Regions from separate parts of the Homo sapiens genome. Here region 1 is linked to region 2. The links come from fine-mapping of genetic effects on gene expression. Tissue or cell type: Th1 cells. Region 2 holds a variant in brackets; the other region holds the start of a gene. All regions are shown on one strand. Distances are from middle to middle.

What was found. PIP is the estimated chance that this variant, and not a neighbour inherited with it, causes the effect.
Region 1: VIM-AS1 starts here. The variant in region 2 is fine-mapped to the expression of VIM-AS1 in Th1 cells (Schmiedel 2018, PIP 0.95).

The regions. Positions count from the first base shown.
Region 1 is chr10:17,227,833-17,232,983 of GRCh38, forward strand. It overlaps VIM-AS1 (VIM antisense RNA 1), which reads right to left and starts at 2,153. Exons shown (of 3, transcript NR_108061.1): 1 at 1,513-2,153. It overlaps VIM (vimentin), which reads left to right and starts at 409. Exons shown (of 10, transcript NM_003380.5): 1 at 409-692; 2 at 1,444-2,153; 3 at 2,818-2,878. The coding sequence starts at 1,591. RefSeq lists an enhancer at 1,738-1,827 and a silencer at 2,138-2,317.
Region 2 is chr10:17,277,205-17,282,355 of GRCh38, forward strand. No RefSeq gene overlaps it. Among named protein-coding and RNA genes, the nearest start is that of VIM-AS1, 50 kb to the left of the region's middle. The variant G/A (reference allele first, on the strand shown) is at 2,308.

The DNA of each region.
Region 1 (5,151 bases), 49 kb before region 2:
CAGGACCTATGGCATTTCCCAGACAAATCACCGTGAACCCTGTACTGTGCATTGCTGTCCTAAAATTAACACATAAATCTATTGCCGCCAAAGATTCTGTCATTTGTGTTACATAATTGCCTTTCATTTGAACTCATTAATCAAATTGGGGTTTTTAAGCAACACCTAATTAATTCTTTAACTGGCTCATATTATACCTTTAATGACTTCCACCAGGGTAAAAACCACTGATCACTGAGTTCTATTTTGAAACTACGGACGTCGAGTTTCCTCTTTCACCCAGAATTTTCAGATCTTGTTTAAAAAGTTGGGTGTGGTTTCATGGGGGGAGGGGGAAGAGCGAGAGGAGACCAGAGGGACGGGGGCGGGGACTCTGCAAGAAAAACCTTCCCGGTGCAATCGTGATCTGGGAGGCCCACGTATGGCGCCTCTCCAAAGGCTGCAGAAGTTTCTTGCTAACAAAAAGTCCGCACATTCGAGCAAAGACAGGCTTTAGCGAGTTATTAAAAACTTAGGGGCGCTCTTGTCCCCCACAGGGCCCGACCGCACACAGCAAGGCGATGGCCCAGCTGTAAGTTGGTAGCACTGAGAACTAGCAGCGCGCGCGGAGCCCGCTGAGACTTGAATCAATCTGGTCTAACGGTTTCCCCTAAACCGCTAGGAGCCCTCAATCGGCGGGACAGCAGGGCGCGGTGAGTCACCGCCGGTGACTAAGCGACCCCACCCCTCTCCCTCGGGCTTTCCTCTGCCACCGCCGTCTCGCAACTCCCGCCGTCCGAAGCTGGACTGAGCCCGTTAGGTCCCTCGACAGAACCTCCCCTCCCCCCAACATCTCTCCGCCAAGGCAAGTCGATGGACAGAGGCGCGGGCCGGAGCAGCCCCCCTTTCCAAGCGGGCGGCGCGCGAGGCTGCGGCGAGGCCTGAGCCCTGCGTTCCTGCGCTGTGCGCGCCCCCACCCCGCGTTCCAATCTCAGGCGCTCTTTGTTTCTTTCTCCGCGACTTCAGATCTGAGGGATTCCTTACTCTTTCCTCTTCCCGCTCCTTTGCCCGCGGGTCTCCCCGCCTGACCGCAGCCCCGAGACCGCCGCGCACCTCCTCCCACGCCCCTTTGGCGTGGTGCCACCGGACCCCTCTGGTTCAGTCCCAGGCGGACCCCCCCCTCACCGCGCGACCCCGCCTTTTTCAGCACCCCAGGGTGAGCCCAGCTCAGACTATCATCCGGAAAGCCCCCAAAAGTCCCAGCCCAGCGCTGAAGTAACGGGACCATGCCCAGTCCCAGGCCCCGGAGCAGGAAGGCTCGAGGGCGCCCCCACCCCACCCGCCCACCCTCCCCGCTTCTCGCTAGGTCCCTATTGGCTGGCGCGCTCCGCGGCTGGGATGGCAGTGGGAGGGGACCCTCTTTCCTAACGGGGTTATAAAAACAGCGCCCTCGGCGGGGTCCAGTCCTCTGCCACTCTCGCTCCGAGGTCCCCGCGCCAGAGACGCAGCCGCGCTCCCACCACCCACACCCACCGCGCCCTCGTTCGCCTCTTCTCCGGGAGCCAGTCCGCGCCACCGCCGCCGCCCAGGCCATCGCCACCCTCCGCAGCCATGTCCACCAGGTCCGTGTCCTCGTCCTCCTACCGCAGGATGTTCGGCGGCCCGGGCACCGCGAGCCGGCCGAGCTCCAGCCGGAGCTACGTGACTACGTCCACCCGCACCTACAGCCTGGGCAGCGCGCTGCGCCCCAGCACCAGCCGCAGCCTCTACGCCTCGTCCCCGGGCGGCGTGTATGCCACGCGCTCCTCTGCCGTGCGCCTGCGGAGCAGCGTGCCCGGGGTGCGGCTCCTGCAGGACTCGGTGGACTTCTCGCTGGCCGACGCCATCAACACCGAGTTCAAGAACACCCGCACCAACGAGAAGGTGGAGCTGCAGGAGCTGAATGACCGCTTCGCCAACTACATCGACAAGGTGCGCTTCCTGGAGCAGCAGAATAAGATCCTGCTGGCCGAGCTCGAGCAGCTCAAGGGCCAAGGCAAGTCGCGCCTGGGGGACCTCTACGAGGAGGAGATGCGGGAGCTGCGCCGGCAGGTGGACCAGCTAACCAACGACAAAGCCCGCGTCGAGGTGGAGCGCGACAACCTGGCCGAGGACATCATGCGCCTCCGGGAGAAGTAAGGCTGCGCCCATGCAAGTAGCTGGGCCTCGGGAGGGGGCTGGAGGGAGAGGGGAACGCCCCCCCGGCCCCCGCGAGAGCTGCCACGCCCTTGGGGATGTGGCCGGGGGGAGGCCTGCCAGGGAGACAGCGGAGAGCGGGGCTGTGGCTGTGGTGGCGCAGCCCCGCCCAGAACCCAGACCTTGCAGTTCGCATTTCCTCCTCTGTCCCCACACATTGCCCAAGGACGCTCCGTTTCAAGTTACAGATTTCTTAAAACTACCACTTTGTGTGCAGTTGAAGGCCCTTGGGCACAATGAGAGCCAGTCCTCCAAACTTTCAGAAAGTTTCCTGCCCCTTCTGGCAGGCTGCCAATCACCGGGCGGGAGAAGGAAGGAGGGGAAGGCGGTGGAGGGAGCGAGACAAAGGGATGGTCCCTCGGGGGCGGGGATGGCGGGGCTGTCCTGTAGGTCTGTGCGGCCACCGTGATTGCCCCTCTGCGCGGTGCCCGAAGTCCCGCTGAAACCTGCCGAGGGCAGCAGGTCTGAAAGCTGCAGGCGCTAGTTGCGCGGAGGTGGCGCAGCTGCTCTGGAGGCGCAGAGCGAATACGTGGTGTTTGGGTGTGGCCGCCCCGCCCCTGGCGGTTTCCTCGTTCCCCTTTGGTTAATGCGCAACTGTTTCAGATTGCAGGAGGAGATGCTTCAGAGAGAGGAAGCCGAAAACACCCTGCAATCTTTCAGACAGGTTTGTAGACTCTCTTCCCACTCGCAGCCGCCTGACCCCACCCAACACAACCCACGAGCAATTCTAAAAGTTGCTTAACTCACGTCTAAAAAGTGCAAAACTTCAGGGCTGCGCGTAAAGCCCTCTAGTGGCGGGAAGACCACAGGTTGGAGCTTCTCATGATTAGAAAAATATTAATAAAACCCCTTGAGCGATTTTTTTTTTTTTTTTGAGACGGAGTCTTACTCTGTCGCCCAGGCTGGAGTGCAGTGGCGAGATCTTGGCTCACTGCATCCTCCGCCTCCCGGGTTCAAGCGATCCTTGAATGATTTCTAAGCAGTTCCTTGGGACATAAAGAAAAATCTTTTAACTTTTTACTTTGTTTCCCAAATGTTGCACAGTTTTGCAACACATTGACCTTCTGGTTTCGAACGGTTACAATTTTAGATTGTGGTTTGCCAAAGTCAAGTTGCTTAATTTTTACAAGGCCACAAAAAGCGCAATTATGCCCTGCAGTTTAAAATGGAAAACGTGTTGGAAGATAAGAAAACTTAGTTTCCAACTGGAATGGAGCCAGCAAGTTTCTTTTCTTCTTTGCAAATTCTATTGTGTCATTAAAGTTCGATGGAAGTATCACTATGCACAACTATTTTGTGATCTAATAAGGGTGAAAAGGAGCCATCTGTCCCCTTGGCTAAGGGGTATTAATGGTTTCTATGGGCTTCACTATGGAATGTAGATACAGACATTCTGGCAAATGTGGTGGCTCTGGACAGAAATAATAGGAGTCTTTGTATTCCCAGGGAAGCTTTGCAACAGGCTACATTCTTACTGAATATGTAATGATGTAAGCACGGTTCTAATTGGACACAAGTATTTGCTAACATCCGTTATCTAATATCTGGCCCAGACTTGAGAAGTAGGTAATGTAAAAAGTTTTTAAAGCTACAAGCATACCTCACATTTTAAAAGTCCTTTCTTGATTGGGTTCTTGTGTTCTTTAGCACTCTTGCCATAAAAAATAATAACAGTAATAAACCCAAGGCTGAAAAACTGAATTTTAACTAAAGGGTTTTTGTGCGTGTTTTTTTTTTTTTTCACCAAAATTAGATGGACTTACAGAATTTTTAACTTAAAATTGGAATCCAAAAGCCAGAAGATCCCCATTATAGTTTATAGTTGTATTCCCTGGAATATTTACTGGGATTAACTGCAAAGCACTCTCAGATGAATAGTGTAGTATAACATTTTGAAACTGAAATACATTTACCAAATTAATTTAACCACAGCAATGTGTGTGGTTCATTTTAGTCCTTGAGCATTTTTGATTATCATACCTGTCATGTTTTCTGCAGTGTAGTGAGTTAACATAAAACAACATCAATACAAAAGATCCTCTGTTTCGAGATTAAGCAAAATTCCTCATTCTCTTCAATGTGATAGAATACCACATTGATCTTTCTTTGGAGGTTAGTAAAATATCTTTTATGTATTTTTCAGGGCTTAACAAGTAAAAATCAATGTTTTCATCAAGTCTGATCTTTTTGTCACCCACTCTTCATTCATTTTTCCACTAAGGTGATAGAAAAGTCTCAACAGTTTAAGACCGTAAGGCTATGAACTCCAAATATAATTGCTGACAAGATAAGCAATCCTCACGCATCCTTTTGAGAGGAAATAAAATCTTAGTTGCAAGATTACATATTCTGATTTGGAATGCTGAGCTTTTTAAATGGAAATATAGAAGGACGGCTGAATCAGCAAAAATCCTTTATGTAGTTTCATTCTTTGCAAGCTTGACCAGTCATTCTGAAACAGGCTAACTGAACTGATACAGTGGCAAGTGAAAAAGACATGCCTTTACAGGATGAGTCAAAGGAGTTTTAGAAGAAAAATCCACCAGAGAAAGCCAAGCAAATACAGTTCAGAGTTACATTTCTTTTCCATTTTTTCCTGAACTGAATCTTTGGCATGCATATCCTGAATTGGGTTATTGAATATAAATCTAGCCTTGTACAATGGATGCCAGATGACTACATATTTGCTTTGGAGCCTAAGGATAAGTTTCAAAAGATTTGAGTGGAGAAGAAAAGCTAAAACTCTTGAAGCACAAGTTTCTGTTCTCCATGTACTCAAGTGTACATGAAGTTGTGAAAATTTGTCCACCTCTATCATCATGTTATTCCATGAAATTACAAAACAAATCTTAAAAATGTTGTGGCATAGATTTTCTAGATTTAAAAAGTAATTAAATTAAATGAATTACTTTATTTTTTGAGACAGAGTGTCACTCT
Region 2 (5,151 bases):
CGTGACAGCCAGGTTTATGAGCAGCACCCTTCTGCGGAAGTAAATTTACCTTGCTGAGAAATTCTTTGTTTTACTGCTCATTTTCTTTGTGACCCTGAGCTCTTACTTCTGACATTAGCAAGATAACAAAAAAAAGATAAAGAATATTTATTTCCTGGTGGCCACGAGAGCACTCTAAACAAACAAACAGTGCTAGAAACTAAAAGCATTCATGGTCTGGGAGAACAAACCGTGTGCTAGCTCAGTTAGAGGTACTGTCCCTAAATTTACTGATAGTTATAAGAAAAAAACAACAACAGGAATTCCTGAGGAATGTAAGTGTTTGACAACAAGGCCTGTAAATATAATGGTTTAACCACAAAGCTTGAAAACGTTTGTTATGGGAAATTGATTTTCTTCACTTCAGCTGTAAATTAACTCATCAGTTTTGTGATAAGTAACCTACCACTCAGGATGTGAACTTTCTGGCCTTGTGATAATGAATCCACCACACTGTGCCTGTTCTCCTATTTTTTAGAGAGCTTTTTCTTCCCTTACCAGTTCTATTCCCAACAGTATAGAAGTGATTTAAGCTGCCTCTGACAGATCTGATCCATATAGAGTACAAAGCCTCTTTCTTCCATGCACTGTGAGTGAAATACTAACAACAGCCTTGTACTAAAAGTTATAAATTTAGGAAAAGCTAGGCCTTGAGGGGATGGGAGTGAGTTAAGTAAAATTAAAAGTAGTCTAAATTTATCTTCTTTCTGGTGTATGAATAAAAGCAATAGGGAAATAGAGTATCTGAAGTATATAGGAATTCTATCTTGCTTTCATGTAATAGTCAAGAAACAGTATTTAATTATGAAGCTAATTGTTCAAACAAAGAAAAAAACTAACACATTTTCAAAAGAAGAAATTTTAAGAGACCACATTCCTTGATCATAATCTGATACAGTTAAGCAAAAAATAAAACTATGCCTCTATTACTCAGAAAATAATAAATCCACTTCTACTTAAATCTTTGATAGAAGAGAAAAGTCAAAATAAAATCATCAACTATAGGTAGACCAGTGAAAGGAAGGCCACTACATTCTAAAACCTCTGGCACACAGGCCGGGCATGGTGGCTCCTGCCTGTAATCCCAGCACTTTGGGAGGTCGAGGCAGGCAGATCACTTGAGGTCAGGAGTTTGAGACCAGCCTGGCCAACATGGTGAAAACCCATCTCCACTAAAAATACAAAAATTAGCTGGGTGTGATGGTGCGCACCTGTAATCTCAGCTACTTGGGAGGCTGAGGTAGGAGAATCGCTTGAACCCAGGAGGTGGAGGCTGCAGTGAGCCAAGACCACGCCACTGTACTCTAGCCTGGGCAACAGAGGAAGGAATTTATCTCAAATAATAATAATAATAAAAGCATCTGGTACACAATGACAACTATACTCATTGGGAGATTACAACCTTGAAAGCTGTGTTGGGGGTCCCCAAGACCACCCTCAGGCTTGTCAATATACTAGTAGGACTCAGAGGAGTCATAAAAGCCGTTGTGCTCACAATTACACTTTATTGCAGGGAAAGATGCAGATTAAAATCAGCAAAATGCCAAGGGTCATGGAGCAAAGTCCAGGAGAAACCAAGTGCCAACTTCCAGATGTCCTCTCCCAGTAGAGAAACACAGGTGCATTTAATTCTCCCAGCAAGAATGTGTGACTATACATGCAAAATATTGCCAGCCAGGGAAACTCACCTGAGGCTTGGTGTCCACGGTTTTTATTGGCAGAGTCAGTAACATAGACGTAGTACATGCATGATTGCCCTCAGCCTCTCAGAGCAAAAATAGCAAAAATAAGCATCACCATAAATCACATTGTTAGCATAAACAATCTGACTAAACTAGTACCAGGTAGCCCCAGGCCTCAGTCATGCAAAACTCTCTGATCCTGCAGAATATTTCAACATCTCAGAGCTCAGCTCCCAGGAGCCAGCTAGGGCTGATCGTAAAGGCAGGCCTTTTTTGGGAACATGTGGAGTTTAGCAGCCAGACCTGCAGTTAGCACCTTCTGCACAAATGTCTCCACGATTATAGAAGAAACAATAAATTTTTTTAAAAATTCAATGCTTGGTTTAAGAAATTAGAAATAAAAAAACAAAAAGTAGCACAAGAAGGAATTAAGATAACAAAAAAATAAAATGTAATAATAGGTTAAATATATCCCAAAGCCAGTTCTTCCAAAGGACCAATAAAATAGACAAACTTTCATGAGTTTAATCAAGAATTAAAGAGGACAGAAATATACAAGCTTAGGAATGAGAAAGAAAACATGACC[G/A]TAGATAAGGAAGGCATTAAAATAGTTTTAAGAATATCCTAGGACAATGCGTAGAAATAAAGGTCAAAACCTGGAGGAAATGTGTATTTTTTTAGCAAAATATAAGCTGCCACTATTGATCCCAGAGGAAGGAACAACCATGAATAAACAAATTACCATAGAAGGGATGGACAAGATAATGGAAGATCTACAATTAAGAAAGACAGCAGTATAAGATATTGTCACAGCTGAGGAAAGCCCTCTAGCAAGGAGATGCAGGTGTTGGCAGCTGGAAGTCCAGCAGGCATTCACAGAAAAGGTAAGAGTGAGAGGACCTGACAGAACGCTGATAGTATCTGCAACAACTACTAGGGCAAAAATATGTTAATTGCCCTGGTAGGCAAGGAAATGCACATTAAAACAATAGACATCATTGTGCCCCATAATATTGGCAATTACAAGGGGGAATTACAGATGCTTATGGCTGGAGGCCCACAGGAAAAAAAGATTCTCTTATATTTGGTGGTGGAAGTATGAATTGTCACAACCTATTGAGAAACAATCCAATAATATCCATTAAAATTCAAGTTGTGTGTGTGTGTGTGTGTATGTAATTTGTTTTAGCAAGTTCTAGGGATCCATCCCATGGAAATAAAATAAACACAACAATCTATAGGAATATATGATCAGGGAGATTTTACAGCAATATTGTAGAGATTTTTAGAAAAGAAAATGCCAATCAATAGGAAAATGGCTGAAAACATATTAATACCTCCATACCATGTACAATTGTTCAGCTATTAAAAATGAGTTATGGCCAGGCATGGTGGCTCATGCCTGTAATCCCAGCACTTTGGGAGGTTGAGGCAGGAAGATAATTAAGGCCAGGAGTTCAAGAGCAGCCCAGGCAACATAGTGAGATCCCACCCCTACTAAGAATTTAAAAAACTTTAAATAAATTTATAAAATAAAATTTTAAAATGAGTTAGATCTAAATAGATCAAATCAGAAGAATTTTTCAATGTATTATTAAGTGAGAAAGCTAAGATATGGAGGAATTTCCATAATATGATTTCATTTTAGTAAAAAAAAAAGTTAAATCACATTGTGTCTGTGTTTATGCTTGTACAAAAGCATGAAGGAAGGTCCAGAAGGATGCTCAGTAGCTTGGTACACAAGGTACCCTGCTTCTTCTGGTGGTGGAGAGAGATGGTAGTAATGCCAATGTTTGGGAAGGAAAGAGAGAGAGAGAGAGACCCAAGATTAAAAAATATGTATGGTATCTCTGTTAGCCCATTTTCACATTGCTGTAAAAAAAACTCTCTGAGACTGGGTAATTTATAAAAAAAGAGGTTTAGCTGACTCACAGTTCCATATTGCTGGGGAGGCCTCAGGAAACACAATCATGGTGGAAGGTGAAGGGGAAGAAAGGCACTTCTTACATGGTAGGAAGAGAGAGAGACTGAGGGGGGAAGTGCCACACTTTTAAACCATCAGATCTCGTGAGAACACCTCACTATCACAAGAACAGCACGGGAGAAATCTGCCACCATGATTCAATCACCTCCACCAGGCCCCTCCCCTGACATGTGGGGATTACAATTCAACATGAGATTTGGGTGGGGATGAAGAGCCAAACAATATCAATATCTATGCATCATTCTATATGTGTATGGATATAAAGAAATATATGAAAAGCAGGTCTCCAAAATTAAATAGTGTCATGTGACAAGATATCAGAGATGGTTTTGCCTCTCTGTTTCACATATTTTTGAGTCTTAATTTTAATTAATGTGTGTTTGTATTAGTCAGGGTTCTCCAAGGAACAGAACCAATGGCAGAGAGAGAGAGAGAATAGATGATTTGATAAACAGAGAGATAAATAGATGATTTAATAGATAGTTAGAGAGATAGGAAGATAGAGGATAGACATAGATATAGATAGATGTTTAGATAGATAAATACATAGGAAGATAAATAGATGATAGATAGGGAGATAGAGAGGAAGACTGATAAATCATAGATGATTTGATGGATGATAGATATATGGATAGGAAGACAGATAGTCATATGGTTAGGCTGTATCCCCACTCAAAATCTCATCTTGAATTGTAATCCCCATGTGTCAAGGATGGACCAAGTGGACGTAATTGGATCATAGAGGTGGTTTCCCCCATGCTGTTCTTGTGATAATGAGTGAGTCTCATATGATCTGATGGTTTTATCAGCATCTGGCATTTCCCCTGCTTGTTCTCATTCCGTCCTGCTGCCCTGTGAAGGTGTCTGCTTCTCCTTTGCCTTCTGCCATGATTGTAAGTCTCCGGAGACCTCCCCAGCCATAATAAACTGTGAATCGATTAAACCTCTTTCCTTTATAAATTACCCATTTCTTCATAGCAGTGTAAATTGGTACCGGAAGTGGAGTGCTGCTAGAAAGCTACCTGAAAATGTGGAATAACTTTGGAAATGGGGTAACAGGCAGAGATTGGAACAATTTGGAGGGCTCAGAAGAAGAAAGGAAGATGTGGGAAAGTTTGGAACTTCCTAAAGACTTGTTAAATGGTTTTGACCAAAATGCTGATAGTGATGTGAACAATGAAGTCCAGGCTGAGGTGGTCTCAGATGAAGATGAGGAACTTGTTGGGAACTGGAATAAAGGTGACCCTCGCTATGCTTTAGCAAAGAGACTGGCAGCATTTTGCCCCTGCACTAGAGATCTGTGGAACTTTGAACTTGACAGAGATGACTTAGGGTATCTGACAGAAGAAATTCTTAAACAGCAAAGCATTCAAGAGGTGACAGAACATAAAAGTTTGGAAAATTTGCAGCCTGACAATACAAGAGAAAAGAAAAATCTATTTTCTG